Homo sapiens: one gene and its partner. The protein of the gene in region 2 purifies or fractionates together with the protein of the main gene of each other region. This does not show direct contact. Each region holds a gene or a part of one and is shown on either strand. Other genes may lie near its edges.

Region 1 (3,696 bases), on a different chromosome or scaffold from region 2:
CGGGGCACCCAGCCCTCCTCCCCCAGCACTAGTTTGTTCTTGGCCAGTATAAGGTTTTGCACAGTTGACCTTATAAGCAGGGCTGACCCCAGCTGAGCCCGAGCAGCAGGGGGAGAAATCCACTGTGGTCAGCAGTGTGAGGGCAGTCACCTAGGAACAGCAGAGCAGGTCGGGGCTGGAGCTTGGGACTGCAGAATTCTGTGTGACATCAGAAGCTCCTGGGCCAGTTGTCACATGGAGTCCCAGGCCCCATTGGCAAGACCCAGAAATCTGCATTTTAACAAGTTGAGGGGGACAGTTCCACACTTGGGATTGAGGACCTCTCATGCCATCCTGAGGGTCCCTTTTCCCCCAGGACGAAGGCTGCCCTGTCTCTGCTTCTCTGAGATGCCTAGTTAAAAGGATATGACAAGGACGAGGGACAACAAGCAAGTGAACCTCCCTATCCCAGGAGACCTGACTGCAAGGCTGTGGGGACTTGGGGGAGGTGGGGCGGCCCTGAGAGTGCCTGGTCAGCTTCCAGACTGAGGCAGTTCCCCAGCCCGCTCAGGGCCAGGTGGACTGAGGTCACAATGAGGGATGTAGGTCTCAGCCTCTCAGCTAGAAGGCAGGTTGCAGTCAAATGTCACCTGGTGATGAATGGGAGGCAGCGATAGTTCTGGAGGTTGAGGGCAGTTGCAGGTGATTCCAAGGGGACTTGGGACACCCAGGTCCTGGCCCAGGACCAAGGACACCAGCCTCCCTAGCGCACCCTCCACGCTTCTTCCCCAGAACCTGCACTGGCTGCAAACACATCAAAAAAGAAAACATTTCAGGGCCAATTCATTTTTCTCAAAACATATATTTACCCCTCCTCTCAGTACATCTTTGAGCACCTTTCCCAGAATCTCAGGAATGTATAGACCCCCGCCCCACACTTCATACCCGCCCTAGGCCTTGGTGATGAGGCCCCTCACAGCTTGTGCAATGGCATCCCTGTCGATACCAAACATCTTCAGCAGCTCAGCCGGCTTCCCACTTCTTGGTACCCGGTTAACTGCCAGGTGGGTGACAGTGATGCCAGGCTCGCCCACTACTGCACTGGACACAGCCTCACCAATGCCACCTAGAAATGAAAGGAGGGGAGTCAGAAGACGAGGCCTCAGGGTGAGCAGTGGTGGGCCCAGCCCTCTGTCAGCCTTAGTCAAGGATGGAGGAGGCTGCATATGCACTGCCTTTCTCCACCTGTAGCCATGAGCCCATCACATAACTCATTGATTTTTTTTATTTTAAAGAGACAGACAGGTATCACCATGTTGCCCAGGCTGGTCTCCCAACTCCTGAGCTCAAGAAATCCGCTGTCCTCAGCCTCCCAAAGTGCTGGGATTGCAGGTGTGAGCCACCATGCACGGCCCAGAACTATTTTTATAAGCCCAAATATGGCCTCTAAATGTTTGTTTCAAACACCATTGTTGGTGACCAGCCAGCCACTGTCCATAGTCCAATTATCTACATTTGACCCCAGAGTCAAAGCCCATCTCTCCCACTGGGGCCTCCTACTTAGAGAGGCTGGTGTGTACTTAGGGAGCCTGCTGTGTGAAGGACTCACAAATACCAGAAATTCTGCATTGCTTCCCAAGCTGCACCATAGCTTCCACCCTACACTACCTCAGGGACGCCACCATCCACCATTTAGCAGCGAGGTTGGAATCCTCACCAGCTTCCTGGGCAGCAGGAGCTCCACAGAGCTCATCAGCAGCTGTGAGTTAGCTAGGTCCCCAGGCCAAGCCTGAGGCCTTTTAAGAGACCACGTCCCAGCTGCTCTGAGGGACAGCTCTGGGTGTTCTGGGCCACAGCTGCCCTCCTGGGGCTCAGATAGAAGAGGCACGTCCAACGCTCGGCTCTCTGGCCCTGTCCCTTGCCCAGCCTGCCTGCCCCAGGCCTCCTTACCTTCATAATAATGGTCCTCCACGGTGAGGATCCTGCCCTTGGTGGCACGAGCGCTGTCGAGAATGAGTTTTCTGTCCAGGGGCTTGATGGTGAAGGGGTCCAGCACGCGGATGTTGATCTTTTCTGTGAGGGAGAGCACACGGCGTGGCTGAGGGGAGGGCTGGGCACCACTATCTGCCCTGGTGGGGGCCTGGTGGGACATCCTGAGGGCTGCGTGTAGCTAAGAGCTCAGCCTGCGGGCCTGTCCCTGTCCCAGGGAGAACCACTTGCCACCTCGTTCCCATGGCTGAGCTCATGCTTGCCAACCCCTTGCACTGGGGCATCTGGTCCAGCTGTGTTGCCCGCAGTATCCAAGAACCCAGAGCGGAGCGTGCAGGCCCTGAGCGCCTTCCCTCATCCTCCCACAACCTTGAAGACAAAGGGAATGCGAGAGAAAACACCCCAGGTGTCTGGCCTGATGGAAGGTGAGGCTTGATGTGGTGACGTTGGGGAGCTGCAGCCCGCAGAGTGATCAGAGGCCCACGTGCGGCCCCAGCAGCAGAGGCACCTTCTCAGAAGGACAAACCCACGCTTGCCAGGCCCTGCTTAAAGCTCACCCCCCTGGGTCTCCCCCTGCCTGGGGATGGACTCCTCTGGCTCCTCCAGCCCCATCTTGCTCCTGCCTGACCCTCCTCCGGCCTCCCTTCACTCTCCTCTCTGCTAATCAATTCCTACCCACTCTGAAGCCACTTTCTGGAAGATGCCACACCTGCCCCCTCTTTCGTGCTAAAACATGACATCTGCTGTGTGATTCTATTGCAGGAGAGGCCAATGCCTGTCTCCCCTACAAACCACTAGCCAACACTGTGAGCTCGCAGTAATAATAATAGAATACCAAGTCACATGCATGTAACCCTCAGGAGAGCTCTGAGGGCAAGGGGCTAGTATCTCCATTTTACAGATAGGAAAACAGGCATGGTGACAGTGAATAACTTACTTCCTTAACTAGTGCCTGGCTGAGTGATTCCAGCCCAGCTGGCAGGCTCCAGGCCACTGATCTGGCCACCATGCTGGGGGGGTCTCGACTTTAGAGTCATAGGGTAGGGACTGTGGGCACTGCAGCCCCAGGACTTAGCAACATGCCAGACAGAACAAGTGCTCAAAGGATGGCTATAATTGCTATCATTATTTAATGAAATGAAATGCTTTCTCTCTAGCTGTGAGCTCTTCAAGAAAGAACAGAAAGAACGAAAGAAAGAACCCCAAGACCTAGCATGCAGTGGCCGCTCAGTTGATGACTTTGGAGGCCCCTTCTCCTCACCTTTCTTCAGCAGTTCGGCAGCGGCCAAGGCCTCGTGCAGGGTCACCCCAGCCCCGATAACGGTCACCTGGTCATCCTTGCTCTTCAGGACCACCTGGGGGTGACACAGAGGGTGAGTAAGGCTCAGGGCCCTGGGGCAGGGTGTGCCCTGACTGCTGGGAGTCACAGCAGGGAGGGTCCAGGCAGCTCTGTGGGCTCCTGGGGCATGCGAGGCACTGACCTTGGCTTGTCCGACCTGGAAGTCCTCATTGTTGTTATAGATGATGGCATTTTCTGGGCGGCTGGTCCGGATGAAGCAGATACCCTGAGACCGAAACAGATAAACTGAGGATACAGGATGTGGCACACCCAACCTCAGAGACGAGGTCTTTCTAGAGAGGCCATCCCTTCCCATGGGAGCGTTAGTTACTGCATCCTGGCTACTCCAGCAGGGAAAAGGGCCTTGCTTGCCCTCTGCCGCCCGCACC
Region 2 (3,696 bases):
AAAACTTTTCTATTTTCCTCAAGAAATGCAAAGGATTTTTCAATGTATATTTTCCAGGAACCAGAATAAAGCTGCAAAGAAAAGCTATTGTTTCTAAGGGAAACTGAAGGCTGGAACCAAAAAGCAATTAATCAGTTTCTCAGTTCTTTACTGTTAAGAGAAGTGCTTCCGTTAGGGTACAATTTTTTGTATTTCCTTTAACACAACTGGTAAGTTTTGCATAAAAGATATTGCATATTTAATCCAAGGATTTTATCGCGCACTTCAAAGCCCTCAAAAGCCCACTCATTGTGAGTAACTAACATTTTGTCCTGAGAACAAAGATCTGCACCTTTACTTTATGTGTGTGGTTGGGGATGGAGGTATGGGGTGGGTAAGTAATGTCCTGAATAGTATAAATTCCATCTAGCATTCAGTAGGGAGCCACTGGGTGCCTCTCATTAGATTTCATATGATTAAATAACAAGTAATTCTATATAATATGATACAAGCACAATTTACTAGGTAATTTTGTACAGAACCACAAATAAAACTTGATAAGCAAAGATCACAGCTGAATTAATAATAGCTGGTTCTAAGAATCATTTAAGGCCAGGAGTTCGAGACCAGCCTGGGCAACATAGGGAGACCCTGTCATTAAATAAATAAGGGATGGTTTGTGGTCAGGCATGATGTTTGGGAGTTGGGAGTGTCCTGTGAGGGACTATATTCAGCAATGCTCCTGCTGTGGAATTTCACATGGAGAGCTGTTTTTCTAAATGGCCATATTCCTAGCCGCAGTCTACTCATAAAACACAAAGGAAGAAAGGCAATTCCTCAGGAGCTCTCATATGGAAATATGACCGCTTTGATTCACACACACAAGACTCTTGGCATACTGGAGGAAGGGCAATTAATCTTAGGCCCATTTTGCAGATAAATGGTTTCTGCTTTAGTTAAGGTGTCTTTCCTCCAAGGCCGTGGTTGGTGGTGGTGCCAAGAATATTATTTCAGACTACCTACTGTGTGTTAAACTGACTTTGTTCTCAGGATATTTCGTGTGTGACAGACACAGGAGGCACCTCATGTGGATCCACGATCAGCCACATGAGGTGCCTCTTTAAACATGGTTCCTTCCCATTGCCTCTGGACACAGCTCAATCGGCAGTGCAGACACTGTCGAGGAGTTCTCACCTGCATGTTGCTGCCCCACTGAGCCTTTCCTTCCAACAAAGCGTCCAGGACAGCCCGGCTGGGCTCCTCAGCAGCAGGGTCATTCCCACTCACCACGTAGTAGGAAGACCGCACTCTCTTGAAAAATTCCACATCAACATTCTTACTATTGCTGTGGTTAGGAATGTAGCACAGGTCCAAATACACAGGGAGGCCTGGGGGCACAGCAGATGACTTGGTCGTCTTGGTAGTTCCTGGTCCTTGGGTAAATAAACAAAGACAAAGCAAGGTCATAGCAAGGTGAAGAGACCATACATCCAGCACATGTTCCCCACTCAATCACACCTTCCCTATTCAATCACAAGTAGGTCCTCTGAGACATGCAAAGTGGTGACAGCATTTCCATCTCCCTGGTAATCTGTCAAGGGCATTTACGCTAGCAATGTGACAAAACATAACATGGTTGTTTACCACCTCAATAGGAGAAATGAAGAATGGGATAGTTTCCCTTTGTGGACAACCAATATTAGGAAGCAAGAAGAGTTTGAAGGCCTTTCCCAAGATGGCACTAGATATAATACTCCTCCTAAAGAAGTTGTTAATGTGTTTCTTTATTTGATAAGTGATCTAAGAAGTAGATTTTAAAAGTCAAAAGAAAACGTCTGTATTTGGCAAAACATAGCTAAGTGATCTTAGTGCTCTATTTTAGGGTCTCATTGATAGCAATTTTGTCCACAGCTGGATATTATACCCTAACATTCTACCTAGCAAATAGTTTTGATCTTAACCCCATATGATTTCCAAGGCCCTCAGCACCTCCATCTCATTCATAAACTGATGAAACACCATATTCTCTCCTTAGCACAGTATTCTGAAAAGTGATACTTCTTTCCCTAGACAAGGCTGGATGCCAAACTTGGGCAAAGGAAGGTTCAGAAAGACTAGGCTTTCTCTAGCTAATCAGGACATATCAGACTGCAACCAAAACCCCCAGTCAAATCACAAAGGTCTGGGAAAACTAACTTGTTCCAGTTAGGAAGTTTAAAGCTTTTGAAATGTTAATAGAACTAGCATTTTGAGGCAGTGGTTCTTCAGCCTGACTATATAATCAGAATCACCTCGGATGCTTAATACTGACACCCAGGCCTCATTCTCTAGAGTCTGACTTAAGTGGGCTTGGGTTGGGGCCTGGAACTACTGTCTTTTAAAAGCACCCCAGGCGATTCTAATATGCAGCTGGTTTCATTGCTGTAAAGCCAATTAAAACACCAGCTAGATTTTACATGCTTAATCCTCTTTCTCCATAGGATATTTAAAGACTATCATCCCAGATTGAAAACCACCAGCTAATTCTATCAACTGTACAGTTTTATTTTTAGAGAGGTTAGGGAGTGGTGAGAATCAGCCAAAGTAATAATTGGATAAGCTAATTCATTCTATGAATAGATCAATAGTTTATTTTAATGAATCTGAGCCGAAAGCCCTCAAAATATCCAAAGAATTCCTAAAGAATTCTGACTTGTACTAGAAGTTTGTGAGTTACAGTTCTTCCAGTAATTAAACATGTCTGCCAATTTCGCCCTCTACTCTAAATCACTACCATCAACATCAAATGAATATTGCTCACAGAAGCACAAACTGACAGAACTGCCCAGGTTTGCTTTAAAAGTCAATTAGTACTGCAACTTTGCCTTTTTAGACATCTAAAAGCATCTCCAAAATAAATGAAAATTAACTCATTTTCACTTATTACTTTGCCTTTAAATTACCTCTTTAAATGTCCAAAAAAAGTTTTTTTAAAAATTGTGTGGGCTAGGATGTATATGTTCTGGCAAATTTGCAGTTGGTTTTATCTGTTTAAATGGATTTCATGTTTTCTCCTAAGTGCAGGTCAGTTGTCAACTCTTTCAGATGAAAGGGTTAATTATCTGGTGGTTTTTCATTCATTTTAAACATGAAAAAATTCCGATTATTTTCTATGTGCATGTAGAAAGGCCAAATGTGCTGAGAACTGAGCCTTAAAATTGATACTCCATATTGTTTAAAGTAAAAATTTGCAGTTTTAACAAATGTATCCTAAAGTGTACTTAATTGGAGAGCTCCAAAGATTACTCTATCAGATTTTCCCTAATAAATCAGGGCAATGTTATTTAAATTATGTTGTGCCTTACATGTTTGGGTCCATTTACATTACTTTGTGAATTGTGATCTAAAAATCTCTGAATAATTACCTAAAGCAAATAAAATGTATGAATGCCAATCCTTGTGATTGATGTGAAGCAACAAAATGAAGCAGTACTGCCATAGACCAGTTCCATCAAAAGCCCAGGTCATTGCTGAGAACCTGATAAATCTGAGAATCATGACCAAAAACATGAATGATCAAAAATCAGGGATACCTGCTCTTGCCAAGTGGCATTTCATTTGCTTATTTATTTATTTTTGAGAGACAGGGTCTTGCTCTGTCACCCAGGCTTGGCATGCAGTGATACATACAATTCTGGCTCACTGCAGCCTTGATCTCTTGGGCTGAAGTGATCCTCC

Evidence for each region.
Region 1: the proteins of MAP1B (region 2) and TKT purify together in Homo sapiens (affinity purification with mass spectrometry, with the first as the bait; one study listed by BioGRID). This does not show direct contact.

The regions. Positions count from the first base shown.
Region 1 is NC_000003.12:53,224,827-53,228,522, forward strand, and holds part of TKT (transketolase), read right to left. Parts: intron 3,534-3,696; coding exon 3,450-3,533; intron 3,324-3,449; coding exon 3,230-3,323; intron 2,053-3,229; coding exon 1,930-2,052; intron 1,106-1,929; coding exon 930-1,105; 3' UTR 1-929. UniProt on the Homo sapiens protein: Catalyzes the transfer of a two-carbon ketol group from a ketose donor to an aldose acceptor, via a covalent intermediate with the cofactor thiamine pyrophosphate.
Region 2 is NC_000005.10:72,201,279-72,204,974, reverse strand, and holds part of MAP1B (microtubule-associated protein 1B), read right to left. Parts: intron 1,413-3,696; coding exon 1,174-1,412; intron 1-1,173. UniProt on the Homo sapiens protein: Facilitates tyrosination of alpha-tubulin in neuronal microtubules. Phosphorylated MAP1B is required for proper microtubule dynamics and plays a role in the cytoskeletal changes that accompany neuronal differentiation and neurite extension.